2 linked regions of the Homo sapiens genome follow. The protein of the gene in region 1 interacts with the protein of each later gene in a pairwise test. Each region holds a gene or a part of one and is shown in the gene's direction. Other genes may lie near its edges.

What was found.
Region 2: the proteins of NCK1 (region 1) and MEPE interact in binary tests that used the Homo sapiens proteins (3 or more experiments, as listed by UniProt).

What each region holds. Positions count from the first base shown.
Region 1 is NC_000003.12:136,868,708-136,872,207, forward strand, and holds part of NCK1 (SH2/SH3 adapter protein NCK1), read left to right. Parts: intron 1-3,500. UniProt on the Homo sapiens protein: Adapter protein which associates with tyrosine-phosphorylated growth factor receptors, such as KDR and PDGFRB, or their cellular substrates. Maintains low levels of EIF2S1 phosphorylation by promoting its dephosphorylation by PP1.
Region 2 is NC_000004.12:87,831,509-87,835,768, forward strand, and holds the start of MEPE (matrix extracellular phosphoglycoprotein isoform a precursor), read left to right. Parts: upstream 1-1,460; 5' UTR 1,461-1,506; intron 1,507-3,194; 5' UTR 3,195-3,206; coding exon 3,207-3,260; intron 3,261-4,260. UniProt on the Homo sapiens protein: Promotes renal phosphate excretion and inhibits intestinal phosphate absorption. Promotes bone mineralization by osteoblasts and cartilage mineralization by chondrocytes.

The sequences.
Region 1 (3,500 bases):
CGAATCTCTTGATAATGCCAATTAATCTTTGGAGGCCTTGAATGTGGATACAGAACAATGTAATGATTTAGAGGAAACCTGGAGGGCTTATCATATAACTAAATGCAGTGATCTAGCTGTAATGTTCTTTTTCTCTTTTGAGTGTTAGAACTGTAACACCTTCACATTTTGCTACTTTTTGTCCTCTTGTTCATCTGTCAGGAACCATCACTTCTTGTTGAGCAAGACAAGACAAAATATCTTGTTGAGGCCGGGCGCGGTGGCTCACGTCTGTAATCCCAGCACTTTGGGAGGCTGAGGCATGCGGAGCCCCTGAGTCCAGGAGTTTGAGACCAGCCTGGCCGGCATGGTGAAACCCCATCTCTACTAAAGATATAAAAAAATGAGCCCACTGTGGTGGTGCATGCCTGTAGTCCCAGCTACCCGGGAGGCAGAGGCAGGAGAATGGCTTGAACCCCAGAGGCAGAGGTTACAGTGAGCCAAGATCATGCCATTCCACTCCGGCCTGGGTAACAGAGCAAGACTCTGTCTCAAAAAAAAAAAAATTTTATTTGTTCCGCTAGGCCTGATGGCTCACTCCTGTAATCCCAGCGCTTTGGGAGGCTGAGGTGGGCGGATAACTTGATCCCAGGAGTTCGAGACCAGCTTGGCCAACATGGTGAAACCCTGTCTCTACTAAATACAAAAATTAGCTGAGTGTGATGGCGAATGCCTGTAATCTCAGCTACTCAAGAGGTTGAGACAGGAGAATCACTTAAACCCGGGAGGCAGGGGTTGCGGGGTTGTGAGATCCCGCCACTGCACTTTAGCCTGGGTGACAGAGCGAGATTGTCTCAAAAGAAAAAAAAGAAAGAAAGAAAAATCATTTGTTCCATTTGGTGAGTTAGAGTGCTTTTATATGTTTGTTCTTCATGTTTATTTTTCCTCTTAACTCTAAAGTTTCTGTAACAGAAACCATGTATGGTTGCTTTCGTATTTTTCTTATGTGTACGTAACAATAGTTGAATGCTGTAAGACAGCATAGAAGACTATCAGGTAAAATCTCTCTGTGGAGGGAAAGGAATGCTTATTCTCTTGGTCTGTTTTTCATTTATTTTTTGGTTGTTAATAGTTGCTTTTTCTATTTGTTTAAATTATCAGTTAAAAAAACCTGTTAAAACACTGATTCTCTTGTTTCTATTCCTGAAATTGTAAGTAATGATTGCTGAATTGGACATGAATATGGTATGGATAATTTTTGCTTTTGTTCAAACAGCCAGTTGAATAAAACAAGCAGTGAAAATATGTGGAAATATTTAAAAGAATGGATGTTTCTCAAAAGTTTTTTTTTTTTTTTTTTTTTTAAAAGAATCATCCTGGCCCAGCGCAGTGGCTCATGCCTGTAATCCCATTGGGAGGCCGAGGCAGGTGGATCGCTTGAGGTCAGGAGTTCGAGACCAGCCTGGCCAACATGGTGAAACCCTGTCTCTACTAATAATACAAAATTTAGCTGGGCGTGGTGGTGCATGCCTGTAATCCCAGCTACTTGGGAGGCTGCTGCAGGAGAATCATTTGAACCCAGGAGCCAGAGGTTGCAGTGAGCCGAGATCATGCCACTGCACTCCAGCCTGGGTGACAAGGAGAGACTTAATCTCAAAAAAAAAAAAATTCATCCTTTTCTTCCAAAAATTTTAGCACGTATTTTCATATGTTAGTGTGTAGATCAATTCAAATAATAGATACAACAAATACTGTAATATGTTGTGTACCTTGTAATTATTCCAGCTGTATCGCAGAAATATTTTATAAATTTAATAGGGCTGGGCAGTTTTTTTTGGAAATGCTTGATCATTTGCAAGTACTACATGCTCTTGAATAATATATTTTCATTTTTAGAAACATTTAGAATATTTAGTGTACAACCCCTGTCTCCCAGTAATTCTGCTGCCCAAGGAAATCAGTTACTTTATTTTTTCTTTTCATTTCTTAGCTATAGTCTTTAAAAAAAAAAAAAAAAAAAAGGCCTGTGAGGTCTTGCATGATTTGGCTTTTGTCTACGTCTCACTTCATCTCTTGCTTTTGTCTCTTTCCTCTTTCAGCCTTGAATAGCTTAGCCCTTTTTTGCTTTGGTGTCTGTGATCATGCTCTTCCTCAGGGCAGATGGCTCCTTTAGGTTAATCAGCATTAAGTTTGGCTACTAGTATCAGACAGATGCCAAATATTAATTTCTCTCACACCAGAGAAATCCAGGGTTGGCATGGCATTCATTTATTAAATGTTATTTCCAGGTGTGTGTATGTGTTTTGCTATTGTAAATTCTGCAATAAAGATCTTTGTGTATAAGGCTTTACATTTTTTTTCCTTTTGATTAATTCCTGTTGTGGATCCAACTAAAAAGCTTACTAATTTTTTTTTAAAAAATTGTTTAGTCTGGGCATGGTGGCTTATGCTTGTAATCCTGCACTTTGGGAGGCTGAGGTGGGAGGATGCCTTGAGGGTAGGAGTTAGAGATCAGCCTGGGCAATATAGCAAGAGCCGGCCTTTACAAAAGTAAAAAAAAAAAATTAGCCAGGTTTGGCTGTGAGCGTCTGTAGTCCTAGCTACTTGCAAGGCTGGCGGGAGGATTGCTTGAGTCCAAGAGGTCGAGGCTGCAGTGAGCTATGATCGCGCCACTGTACTCTAGCTTGGGGGACAGAGCGAGACGCTGTCTAAAAAAAACAAAATTAAAAATTTGTTTAGAGAAAGTATCTTTAAATGTTTATTGAAAACTGCACAAATTTAAATGTATAGAATGTTTATATTTGTAGATATCTGTGTAGTCATCACTCAAATCCAGATGTGGAACATTTTTAGTGTTCGAAAAGGCTCTCTTGCGCCCCCTCCAATCAGTGTCTCTTTCCCTCTCAAAGGTAATCACTATTCTGTCCTCTATCGCCATAAACTATTTTTGCCTGTTTTTGAACTTTATATAAATGTAACTGATATGGTTTGGCTGTGTCCCCACTCAAATCTCATCTTGAATTGTTACTCCCACAATTCCCACGTGTGGTTGGCAGAACCTGGTGGGAGGTAATTGAACCATGGGGGTGGGCCTTTCTCGTGCTGTTCTTGTGATAGTGAATAGGTCTTGTGGGATCTGATGGTTTTAAAAACGGGAGTTTCCCTGCACAAACTCTCTTCTCTTATCTGCCGCCATGTGAGAAGACATGCCTTTAACCTTGTGCCATGATTGTGAGGCCTCTCCTGCCATGTGGAACTGTAAGCCCATTAAACCTCTTTATTTTGTAAATTGCCCAGTCTCAGGTATGTCTTTATCAGCAGCATGAAAACAGATTAATACAGTAAATTGGTACCAGTAGAGTAGAGTGCTCCTGAAAAGATACCCGAAAATGTGGAAGCAACTTTGGAACTGGGTAACAGGCAGAGGTTGGAACAGTTTGAAGGGATCAGAAGAGGACAGGAAAATGTGGGAAAGTTTGGAACTTTCTAGACTTGTTGAATGACTTTGCCCAAAATGCTGA
Region 2 (4,260 bases), on another chromosome or scaffold:
GTCTCATCATCCCTTCTGCCGCACTCAGGTTCAAGCCTCCATCATCTCTGGCTGGGATTATTACAAGAGCTTCCTAGCCATTCTCTCTGCCTTTTTCCTACTTCAGTCACTCCTCAATCATGCCTGTGCTTAAAACCTCCAAGGACTTTTCTTCTCACTCATAGCAATGTCAAAAGCATTGCAATGACCTACAGGTCCTATACCATCTGCCATCTAATACCCTTCTGACCTCATTTGTTGCTATTCCCCTTGCTCAGGCCTCCAACCAAAGTGGCCTCTTCTCTGTTCCTGGAACAAGTCACAAGGCTTTTATTTCTGGGGCACTATTTTTCTTATTTCTTCTTCCTGGAATGGTCTTCCCATAGACAGTCATATGGCTGCAGGCTTATCTGAGTCTGTTCATGCTGCTACTACAGAATACCACAGACTGGGTAATTTATAAAAAACAGAAATTTATTTCACACAGTTCTGGAGGCTGGGAATTCCGCAATGAAGAGGCCAGCATGTTCATTGCCTGACGAGGGCTGTCTATCTCTTCTTCCAATTTGGCACCTTGCTACTGCATCTCCAGAGGGGACAAATGCTGTGTCTTCACACTGCAGACAAGCAGAAGGGCAAAAAGGGACTAGCTAGTTTCTTCTTGCCCTTTTATAAGGTCATTAATCCCATTCATACTGGGGTCTGCCTTCATGACTTAATCACCTTCTAAAGAGCCCATCTCTCAATACTGTCACCTTGGGTTTAAGTTCTAACATGGGAATTTTGGAGGGACACGTACATTGAAACCATAACAAGGTCTTTACTCAAAAGTTGCCTTCTCATTGAGGCCTTCCCAGGACTTCCTATCTAAAATTTCAACCCAGTGTCCCCACCCCCAATGCTTGTTACTCCCCAACAATACTTTTTCTCCTTAGACTTAGTATATGTCACTATCTAATCTATTTAACTCATTTATCTTGTTTATTATCTGTCTCCCTTATTGGATTCTAAGCTCCAGGAAGACAGGGATTTTTTTCTGTCTTGTTTTGTTCACTGCAGTTTCGCCAATGCCTGTCACACAGTAGGCACCTAAAACATTTTTGTTAAATGTTGCTGAATTTCACTTAGATAAAATTGACATCATAAACTTTCTACATAAAAGGATAGCAAAAATGTTTTCCATTTCTAAACTTGTTAGGTATTCAGTCAGTCCTAATTAGCAGTTCTGAAATCAATTTTGATTATCTGACAACATGATGTCCAAACTGAGGTATTTATATTTTCTGTTTATCCCACTTTCTGGAACATTTGATAGTAGCTTTCTACCACAAACACATTTTTAGATTAAAATTACTTCACCCCCTATGGTTATCTGTGGGCGCTTGTAACAAATTGTTTGCTAGCGCTGAGTGAGCCAGTGCTGATTGGCCATTGGGAACTCTAACAAACTTTAAATTTCAGCAAAATGCCCAGAGACTTCTAATCCTGCAACAAGAAGCCAGGTATTCTGAAGGTGAAAGATACCAGGTAATTTGGCTTTCATGTTCTTGACAGCAAATAGCTTTATATCATAGTTGTTTACGTTTTTAAGATGCTTGCCACCCAAGTATGGTTTTATTACTTTTGAAAATCTTCTCTACTGAGCAAAACTGTGTAATATTTGGTGCTTTGTTTTATAAAATAGGAAATGCGTTACCATGCTCTAGAAATCATCAACTAAAATTGATGATTTGATAGCAACTTTCTCTTTTTTTTTGTTATTAGCATTATCAAGATCCACAGTAACTCAGACTTCAGTTTTCTTCTATCCCTTCACTTAACAAACTGCAATCAGGAAAATCTGATCTTATTCATACTTTGAAACCTCATCTGTGTTGATATTTCTACTGATGAGCATTAACTCATTTCATAAGTTACTTACGTTGTCCTGATCTATAAAATGCTTGGAAGGGTAAACTATAGTTAGAATTTAGATCCTTCTAATTGCATTAATTTAGAAAAACATAGCCTAGGATTTTAGAATATATTTAATAGTTACAATCATTTCTCCAAATACCAGCTTTTCCTTGAGGTGTTTAAAGATTGCAAGAATATTTAGATTATTTTTTCCCATAAAAACAAGTTTTTCTTCAAGAAATCTCAGAGTGGCATAAATTTATTGTTTTCACAATATAATAATAAGATCAATAGTCCAAAGACATGTTGACTTTTTTCCAATCTAATGGCTACTTAAGTGAGCTCACTAGTTCCTGTTGGTATATTTACCAAAATATAAACAAATACCTTTATTTGTAACTAAATGTTAGTATTTTGAACATCATTTTGTTGAGCCCAATATAAAATATGATTTGCCTTTAAGTCAACTGTACATGGATTTTTCTGTAATAAGATAAAAGAATAGAAAGTTATTTAAGGTGGCAGAGAGTCTTGATGAAGAAAACTGGGTCTAGAGCCACATTGCCTGGATACTAATCCCAGTTCTGCCCCTTAATATTTGTGAATTCTAAAGCAAGTTATTTGATCTTTTTGTGTCTATTTCCTAATCTATACAACAGGCATAGTAACGCCGCCTAACTTGTAGGGTTGTTGTGAGGCTCAAATAATTGAATGCATGCAAAATTCTTAGACCCAGTGCTTGGCTCATTTTAGTATTCAATAAATGTTAGCCATTAATGTCAGTGTTGCAAAAATTAGTTCACTCTCCAGCCCATGGATGGCTACTAATTCAGACACATTGCTAATGAACATGAGACACAGATTAGGGCACCAGCCCGGAGGCAGATAAGCTTTCCTCACAGTGCAATCTGCTACCCTGACAAACTTAGAGTGTGTTATGAGCTGCTACATCAACTTAATGTCATTTTGAATTACACAAATAATTAAACAATCTCTTTCTAAAGACAAGAGGAAGAAGAGCTGATGATAGAGCAAATAAATGTGTCTATAAAATATATTTCTATCAACTGACTTTACTGTTTTAATGATATTGAATAATTTTCATTTTCACATTGGAATAACTAGACATATGAAAGTTCTTAAAATGTCCACACTCGGGTATAAGCAAGTTATACATAGTCTATACACACACATACACAAAAGGATATGAACTGCCAAGGGGAAGGGTGTTTATATATTCCTATGTGTTTTATCTCTTCTTATGGCTGCAGTTTATAACTGGCAATGCTTTGTGGTAAGATATTGTTGTCTTTTTACAGAGATTCTCAAAGATGCGAGTTTTCTGTGTGGGACTACTCCTTTTCAGTGTGACCTGGGCAGCACCAGTAAGTATTTACAAATTCAATTATATTTCAGATAATCTCTTGCTCTCTTCATTTGTTTTTCTTTCAAGCAACGTCTATTTAAATTAGTAGCATCTACCTAATTCAGTTATTTTAAAAAGAACCAAGCAAACAGAAAGCATCTAGCACTTAACACTCTTAACAAAGGAGGTTCTCAATAAACATGTGCTGAATTATGAGATCTGACAACATTGTCTTTTAAGGAACACCAAAAACAGATTTTTTGAGAAAACCAAGAGGCAGCCGCAGCATTTCAAATCAGCTGATACTAATGAGTGATACTCAAAGACTCAAATTATAACATGGTAAAATAATCTTTGACTATTTTCCTGTAAACTTAAAGAATTTGACATGAATGTTTTAAAGCTAACCAGCTAGATTTAGTAAATAGATAAAAATGCAAAGAGACAAGAACTCTTCTGTATTTCTTGCAACACCCCAATACTGTGGGATCCTACTTGTGATTTTCTCTTCATCAGCGAGGCTAGAGGTGGGACGTAGTACCTCCAAGCTTAACCCAAATCAAGCTCCTACTTCCTTGTGTGTCTTTTCTTCCCTCTGACTCACCCAGTTGAATATTCAGGATGTGACCAAATTATCTTGTGAAAATGCTGAGTGTTAGTTATTTTCTGCAATGCAGACACAGTGCTAATTAGATAATGTCTGAGCAGCATCCTAACTTATCAGAATAACCTTTTTGGTTGGAGAACCATGGAAACAAATAGTCATCCCATTGCCAATCATACTTATATATAGGTCCTGAGTGAGTGGGTGACTGCTAGGGTAACCAGGCTGATGAGGATGACCAGGGAAGCAGAGGGCCTCATGGAGGGCAGTGGAAGTTGGGGAAATGTGTTCCCTTCTCCGCACACACTCTGTGCAACAAGGGTGTGCAGTACAGTACTGTGGAGGCTGTACTGCTCACAACACACATTTGCGAGACCCCATGCACAGACCTCACTCAATCAAGGCCTAGAGGCTC